Regions from separate parts of the Homo sapiens genome. Here region 2 is linked to region 1. The links come from fine-mapping of genetic effects on gene expression. A gene starts in region 1. The other region holds a variant in brackets. All regions are shown on one strand. Distances are from middle to middle.

Region 1 (4,403 bases):
AAATAATAGTGCCTATCCCATAGCTTTCTTAGAATTAAATTTATTTATTATTATTTATTTATTACTGTTGATTTTCAGAAGCAGCAGATCAAAATGGCTTAACAAAACAAAGAATATCTGAGGCCCTTCAAAGGAGCTATTTTAGAGCCATTCCATTTCAAGATCTTCATCTGTGGAACAGCAACTTTGCAGTATGTCATGGAGAACAAGGGATGACTGCACTACAGAATTTTTAATATTTCACATGAGCAAACACTGCAAAGAAGGAATGAGAAAGAAACGATGCTAAATATATCTTTTTAAAATGTCTGCCACTAAGAGTCCAGCACCAGCAGGTGGAGCCTCATAACCACATTTTTGTCATCCCTTTCCTTTTTCTCTCCCTCAGTCATGCAATATTATTGCACGTGAAGAAAGACACTAAATGGCCTTTGAGGCTCAGTTTTCCACCATTCCAGTGGCTAGGCAATGTGCTGGCCCAACATATCTGAGTCATCTCAACAAGGATAGGCTGATACCAGCTGCTGAGGTCTGGAGGTGCCCCCTTCTGACAAAGCCACTTCCCTGGCCAGAGTTTCCACTAATGCACAGATACTTGGATGCTCCCTGTGACATTACTGGAGTGAAGTCACTATTAACTATGATACTAGCCATGCTGAGTCCGGTTCAGCCAGCTCCAGCCTAAGCGTACTCTCTGTGGGATAATGAAAGTTTGGAGATTATGCATGCTCTGCTACTTGCTTGTTAGTGAGTTTAAAGCCAATATATCCTACTAGATATTGCCCTACGTGGTAATAGTAGTATGTACATCATGCCCTCCTTGAATAATAGAGAGCCTATTATGAAACAAGCAGTATAGACAAATGTTCCTATACTTATATGTTTAAAAAAATGCAAAAACCATGATTACTTTTGCACAACCTAATAATTAATAGCAAAGATTAGAAAGAATCTAACTTCCTATCAAACGAGGCCCAATTTTAACGTACGGCACTGGTATACAGAGTTTACATATAAATCTTTAGGACACACAAGAAATTGGTGATATGGGTTGCCTCCAGGGAAGGAAAATGGATCGATGAGTAAAGGAATGAAAGGGAGCTTTCTTCTTTCATGACTTTTGAAGTTAGTAGCTATTTAAACTGCATCATCTATTTAAAAAGAAAATAAAGATTTAAAATTTTTAGAAAAAAATTCACCCCATCACTTGTCACGGCACCCCGTTTTAACTCTTTGAATAACACTTACTACATATTTTCTTACACTCTCATTAATTTGTTTATTCTGTCTTTCCCCATAACTGAATAAAGAACACTCACTCCATGAAGTAGAGATTTTGTCTCTATTGTTCACCCTGTAGCACCCAGCACTTAAACAGGATTTAGCACCTAGCAGCCACTCAATAACCATTTGTCGAATAAACCTAAATCGACTTTGCTGTCTTACCTCCTAAACCTCCCCTCCTCCAGAATTCTGAGTTTGGTGGCCTTCTTCAACGTTTTCATTAACACCTAGCATGGACCTCTATCTCTAGAGTTCTCACATGGTATTATAATTGCCTGTTTGTGTTGGGCTTCGGCCAGAAAACTGTCATCTATTTAAGGGCACAGACTTGGTGCCTGACATACAACTGACAATAAATATTCAATGAAATCTATCAAAATAACAGGCTGACGCTACCAGAGGTCCAGGAGTCGCAGGGATTGCTCAAATAAGAGCACAGGAAGACTCAGCTGCGCAAGGGATCAGATCATCAGCACTGCCTTTGCATCGATGCAATCAGACCGATTGTCACCGGTCAGAAAAGCCCCAGAAGCGCCACACTAACACGCCCCATGTTGCAACCGTCCTCTCCAACCCCAAAGAAAACAGAAGATTGACACAGGCACCACGTGAGCGCCCGAACCAAACACAAACACATGCACCCTAAACACTGAGAGAACCACCCAACGCAGACACCCTACTGCCCACACTGCACCAAGGGCGCCTCTGGGATCCATCCCCTTTCCCTAGGTTCTCAGCCCTAGCTGGCAAGGCGGATAGAGAAGACCGGAAGAGGCTGAAAAGAGGAAGCGGTGATTTGCTGCCCGTATGCCCGCCAGTAAGAAGTGCCACACACCTCCGCTTCGGCTCAGGCCGGATTCTCACCATGCGTGTGCCTTCTTCTTTGCCAGCCTCTCCACTCTAGCACCAGAACACCGCAGCGGATACTTGCACGCCATCTCCCCTGGGCGCGGCCATGTTGGAGAAAACTGCACTACATTTCCCATGAGCCCGCGGGACAACGAACAGCGCTCCCACAGTCCTCTTCGCCTCCCAGAGCCCGGGAGTGACCCTTTTTCGACCAAGTGTCTTTGTAAAGTGCTGTCTGTTACACTGAAAATTCAGTTGTCTTTTTGGGGGGAGTAGTAATAATTGGTAGTGCAGCTATATTTTTATCTGTTGCTCTCCAAATGGACAAGGTCAAACAGGTTTGGGCCCTTTGGTCTTTCAGCAATGTCCCCTGGCACCTTCTATTCTTCGTGCATATTTCCTCCTGAATCTTATTAGAGGTGAGAAAGGAAAATAAATCTTGGTGCCACAAAATCACTAAGCTAAAGGGAAAAGTCAAGCTAGGAACTGCTTGGGCAAACCTGCCTCCCATTCTATTCAAAGTCATCCCTCTGAGTCATCCCTCTGCTCACTGAGATAAATGCATATCTGATTGCCTCCTTTGGAAAGGCTCATCAGAAACTCAAAAGAATGCAACCATTTGTCTCTCAGCTGTAATACGTGCGACCTGGAAGCCCCCTCCTCACTTTGAGTTGGCCCGCCTCTGCTTCAATTTGTCCCTCCTTTCTGGACGGAACCAATGTTCATCTTACATATATTGATTGATGCCTCATGTCTCCCTAAAATGTATAAAACCAAGCTGTGCCCCGACCACCCTGGACACATATCATCAGGACCTCCTGAGGCTGTGTCACGGGCGGGCGTCCTTAACTTTGGCAAAATAAATTTCCTAAATTGTCTGAGACCTGTCTCAGATATTCAGGGTTCACAGAGATATGGGAGAGGATCCTGGGGTCTGAAAGATGGCATTGCATGGGCGGGAGGGAAGGAAGTGAATATGCATGAATGTGCCAGGGGAATGGTGAGTACCACAGAGTAATAGAAAGATGTGTGGAAGAATGGTGAAGGAAGCAAGACAGAATTCTGTAGGCCTGCAGAGTGGGAGTTGCAGGGAGGAAGGTTAGAGAAATGAAATGATATGACCAGAGCTTCTTGTGGCAAGTGGGAGGAGAGACTAGAAGATGACTGATGAAGTGAAAAGTAACGAAATATTAACAAGCCCAGTAGTGGCAGAGGGAAAGAAAAAAGAGCTGGTAACAGATCATAAGTAAAAGACAAAGGAGAGGGTGATGATTAGCAGTTGTTCCTGCTCTGTTATTTGTTATATAAATGTACCATAATCCTTCTACCTGCATTGGTTTATGAGCTATGTGAGTGCAGGGAGGGAAAGGTGTAGGGGAAGAGGAATCACCTTCCCATGTTGTTGATACAATGGCCCCTATCTGCAGTGCACCACAGTGGACTAACAATAAAATAGCTGGCTGACCAGGAAAAGTGGCAGTGAAAAAAGAGTGCTGTTGAGTGGCGGAATGATTTGTGTGGAGAATAGGTTACAAACATGAAAGAACAGAAGAGGCAGATAGGCAAGCATTGCAATAGTCTAGGAAAGAAAGGGTGAGACCAAAACTTAATAGTAAAAATGAGGAGGCAAGTGCAAGCTGGAGAGGTCAAATCCACCAGACATTGCAAGCTACATGAGTATAAGAGGACACACAGGAAATCTCCCCATTGCAATTCTGCTTCTGCACTACTGGATGCTTTCAAAAACACATCCCCATAGAGCTTTCTGCAATGATGGAAATATTTTATAGTTTGAGCTGTCCAACATAATAGACACTAGTTAACGTGTGGCTTATGAGCATTTCAAATGTGGCTAGTATGACTAAGGAAATGAATTTTGAATGTTTAAATTTTAGTTTCAATTAAACTTAAGTAGCCACAAGTGGCCGGTGTCTACCAAACTGGATAACAGTGTAAAATATCCTCTTATCTCTTACTGATCAAATTCAATTACTTCATCTCAGTATTTGTCCTGCTTTAAGGTGCTGAAGCTTTTAAAACTTTTTTTCTGCACCTCTCTTTTAATTCTCTTTATACGATCTGATCACTTACTTTCAGAATTTTCCACTAGTTTCTCTCACTCTGTCCGTAATTAAATATAGGCAATCCCTCAGATTTTGAGTTTGACTCTTTTCTGTTATTCTAGTCTCTTCCTGTCTGCCCTCCCCAGAGTTATAAAGAGATTTGTGAATCATTCCCTAATCTTTATCTTCAGCCCTGGCTTCTATTAA
Region 2 (4,403 bases), 42 kb before region 1:
CTTTCTTCATGTAGGTGCACAATATCTAGGATGGAGTAAAAATAAAGATGAGAAGTAATCTGACATACTCCAACAACCCAGGAATGTCAGCTGCTCTCGTTCTTTTTACCTACTCCCTTACTCTCATCCTAAATCCCCTAATCTAGAGAAACGGAAGCTCCAGTCCTCACAGAGCAATGTTAAAAAATGATTACTTACAACAATACACTAAAACAAGAATATCCTACTTCTTAGCACAGCAGAAAAAAAATGGCTCATAGAAAAAAATAGTAACTGAAAACAGACATTCTGGAATCAGACAGAAATGGGTTCAAATTCTGGGTCTAGCACTGTAACCTTGGTCAAGTTTTTAATCTGTTTGAGACTTCCTTTCCTCAACAGTAAGATACCAATAAATAGAAAATTTTTTTCTACTATGAATAAAGTTTGGAGTAGAAGATATAGGTTCAAGTTCCAGTTATGTCCCCTAATTATATGACATCAGGAAATTAATATGATCACTGTGAGCCCCAATTTCTTCATTTACAAAAGATGGATGAAAATATCAGCTTTATCTTCTTCATACTTAGGGGGATCCAAGCCAAAAAATGATTTCTATAAAAATCCTTTCTAATCTGTAAAGAGTTTTATAACTATAAGATAGTTTTACTGATAAAATAATATGGTAGAAAGCAAAATCTAAAGGGAGAAAAAAAATTATATAATGATGGTGTGCCCATAAATTCCTAGAGGAATAAGAAAGAATAAAAAAAATCATTAATTTTCAATCTGTTGGTTATAACTTTCTGGCAATGATCTAAAAAAACAGGATTATATCATGAGGAAGAAAGATGATGATAACCACTGCAAATTAAGCAAAAAGAAAGTCAAAAGCAACATTACTTGCCATATATAACTCCTTATTGATGCCAAGATACTTTCCATTACCACATCCAATATCAGCCACTATTGAACCACTTGGCAAAGCCTTCAAAAACTCCACAATGTGCGGCCAAGGGGTATGTCTTGTGCTGCTGAAGTGCCCAGCAATCTCTTCATAAACCTGATGGACGTACTCTTGCTCCAGCCGTGAGGCTTCTTTATCACTCTCTGGAAATGAGGGGGGAGTCTCTTTCCTCTGGCTATCACAGACCAACGGGTAACCTTAATGAAAAAGCAATACACACCTTTCCTTTTTATCAGAATAACTCATAAGGTATCAAGTTTTCTTAAATGAAAAAAAAAAATCAATGCAAATTTGGTGGGTAGACAGACTCTGATTTATCCGTTAAAAGAAAAAGTTCTTCCCTAATAAGTCTACTGAGGACTGCTTGAGTCTGGGGGGCCAAGGCTGCAGTGAGCTATGATCGTGCTATTGCACTCCAGCACAGGTGACAGAGCAAGACGGTCTTTAAAAAAAGACAAAAAAATACCTAGTGTTGGTGTGGATAAGAAGAGAAGGGAGCTCTTGCACACTGTTGGTGGGAATGTAAATTAGAATGGTCATTATGAAAAACAGTACAGAGGTTCTTCAAAAACTTAGAAACAGGGGACTACCTGCCTTCGGGCCCCCTCTCACACAGAACCCACTTCAGGTTCAATCCCCTCTCGTATCAAGAGCTGTTCTGTCACTCAATAAAACCCTTCTCTGCCTTGCTCAAAAAAAAAAAAAAAATTAAAAATAAGTACTATCTTATAAACCAGTAATCCCAGTATGGGGTATATATCCAAAGAAAATGAAATTAGTACGTCAGAAAGACATCTGCACTCACATGTTTACTGCAACACTATTCACAACAGCCAAGACATGGAATCAAAGTGCCTATCAGTGAATGAATGGAAAAAGAAAATATGGTACATATACACAACAGAATACTATTCAGCCACAAACAGAAGGAAATCTTGCCATTTACAACATGGATAAACTTAGAGGATATTATGTTAAGTGAAATAAGCCAGACAGAGAAGGCAAATACTATACAATCTCACTCATATATGGAATCTAAAAAAAAGCTGATCTCACAGAATAGAGAGTAGTAGAATGGTGGTTACCAGGGGCTGGAGCAGTTGGGGTGGGAGCCGGGGAGATGCTAATGAAAGGATACAAAATTTCAGTGAGATAGAATAAGTCCCAGGGATCTAGTGTAAAACATGTGACTATAGTTAATAATAATATATTGTATTCTTGAAAATCACTATGAGAATAAATTCTTTTTTTTTTTTTTTTTTGAGACAGAGTCTCACTCTGTTGGCCAGGCTAGAGTGCAGTGGCATGATATCGGCTCACTGCAACCTCCGCCTCCTGGGTTCAAGTGATTCTCCTGCCTCAGCCTCCCGAGTAGCTGGGATTACAGGCGTGTGCCACCATGCCTGGCCAATTTTTGTATTTTTGGTAGAGACAGGTTTCACCATGTTGGCCAGGCTGGTCT[C/T]GAACTCCTGACCTCAGATAATCTGCCCACCTTGGCCTCCCAAAGTGCTGGGATTACAGGTGTGAGCCACCGCACCCAGCCGAGAATAAATTTTTAAGTGTTCTCATCACAAAAAAGTATAAGTATGTGAGGTAATAATACATGTTAATTAGCTCAATTGAGCCATTCCACAATATATATGTATTTTAAAACATCATGTTGTACATGATAAACATTTATAATTTGGGGGGTTTTCTGTTGCTGTTTTTTCGTTTTGAGACAGGGTCTTGCTCTGTCACCCAGGCCACAGTGCAAGTGGCGCGATCATAGCTCACTGCAGCCTCAAACTCCTAGGCTCACACAATCCTCCCGCCTCAGCTTTCCTAGTAACTAGGACTACAGGCACACACCACCATGCCTGTCTAAATTTTGATTTTATTTTTTTGCAGACAGGGGGTCTTCCTATGTTGTCCAAGCTGATTTTGAACTCCTGGCCTCAAGCAATTCTCTTGCCTCAGCCTCCCAAAGTGCTGGGATTACAGGCATGAGCCACTGTGCCAGCCACAATTATTATTCATCTTAAAAAAAAATCTGTAAACTGAATCCCCAATAACAGCTTCTTACATTTAATAAATGCCCATGATAAACATTTGCATAAGAAAACTAGCTTGTCTCTCCAACTACACTTTAAGTTCCTTAAGAACAGGAGCCATGCTTTATTTTTCTATACCATGTAACTCACTATCTGCAATGTTCAATATTCATCAAATAATAAACATTTTAAATTTAACTTTTAAAATTTGATATTTTAAGGCTTCAAGGACACTTTTAGTAAAATAAAAAGCTCTTTTAAGCTTCAGTAACATCAGGATATAAAATATAGAAATTTCAAGTTTTCTAAAAGCATAACATTTTGTAGATATAGTAAGAGTTTTTAATTAAATGTTTTCAAGATTATGACTAAATCCAAAAGCTGTTGGTAGATACCACCCATAATTAAAACCCCCAAGATATAAAAAGGATTTTATTATTACTATCATTACAAAATATTATTTACAAAATGAAAGAGGTGTCTGTTAATTGAGTCAAAGAAATCCAGAACATGATGTACTTGTACAGACGATTCAAAATAGCATCCTCTTGACAAGTTTTTGAGCAGTTTTTATTCCCTTCTGAGTTTTCAAATTGACTAAAACATAAACTGTCGCTTATCTCCCTAGAGTTATGTACTATAGAACAATTTGTCATCTCCAACTTCCCTGTTGGATTAATAAGATATAATTTAGAAACTTGACAAACCATTCCCAACAATACCCGTTTTTAAACAAGTAATATTTTATTGCCCTTCAATTGTAGCACTCTTAACTGTTACTTCAATAAGTAAAACATTTATTGGGCACCCAACTCAAGTACTAAGTTTGGAAAAAATAAAGATGAGAAGATGCAGACCCTTGCCTTCAAAGAATGTAAACTCTAATGAGGGTCGTTAAGAAAAGTGCATGAAAGTGCAATACAAGGCAAAATACAGGAAATGCCATTAGAGAGATTCAGAAAAAGCTCTCCTAGGTGTTGACAGGACCTTAAAGGACTTTTATATTAAACTGACTCCATTTTACAGACGAGATAAGAGTATATACTTACTACAGTTACAAGGTGTTTGCCTCACTTTCCTAAATGTAAATGATGTTCGTAGTCCCCTCTTGCTTAAAGTTAAGTCTCCAACATCACTGGTGATAATTCCACTTTTAAGACTCTCAGATGCTTGAACAGTATCAAATTTTCTGCACGTGATTCTAAAAACAATAGTCAAAAAAATTTACTTAACATTGTATTAATAAAAATATTTCAGGCCTTTAAAAATGTTAAGTGAATAGAGAAAATCTAGAAGAATTTATTACAAATATCTATTGGATTCCCTGAATTGTTAGACATTGTGGAAAAACAAAGAAATAAAGGTATTTAAGGAAATTATCTTCATGACAATAATATTAAAAGAATGTACAACAAATTATTCCA

Direction of the effects. Alleles are on the strand shown, and positions count from the first base shown. SD is a standard deviation of normalised expression in the study named.
For the expression in thyroid of the gene that starts at base 2,254 in region 1, allele T in region 2 goes with a higher level than allele C (small effect, 0.28 SD a copy in GTEx).

Evidence for each region. PIP is the estimated chance that this variant, and not a neighbour inherited with it, causes the effect.
Region 2: its variant is the best candidate, but not a certain one, in a credible set for the expression of ALKBH8 in thyroid (GTEx, PIP 0.54).

What each region holds. Positions count from the first base shown.
Region 1 is chr11:107,563,482-107,567,884 of GRCh38, forward strand. It overlaps ALKBH8 (alkB homolog 8, tRNA methyltransferase), which reads right to left and starts at 2,254. Exons shown (of 12, transcript NM_138775.3): 1 at 2,120-2,254. RefSeq lists enhancers at 1,605-2,123, 1,927-2,416, 2,124-2,640, 2,487-2,546.
Region 2 is chr11:107,521,413-107,525,815 of GRCh38, forward strand. ALKBH8 (alkB homolog 8, tRNA methyltransferase) reads right to left here. Exons shown (of 12, transcript NM_138775.3): 9 at 4,029-4,180; 10 at 887-1,143. Among named protein-coding and RNA genes, the nearest start is that of ALKBH8, 42 kb to the right of the region's middle. The variant C/T (reference allele first, on the strand shown) is at 2,409.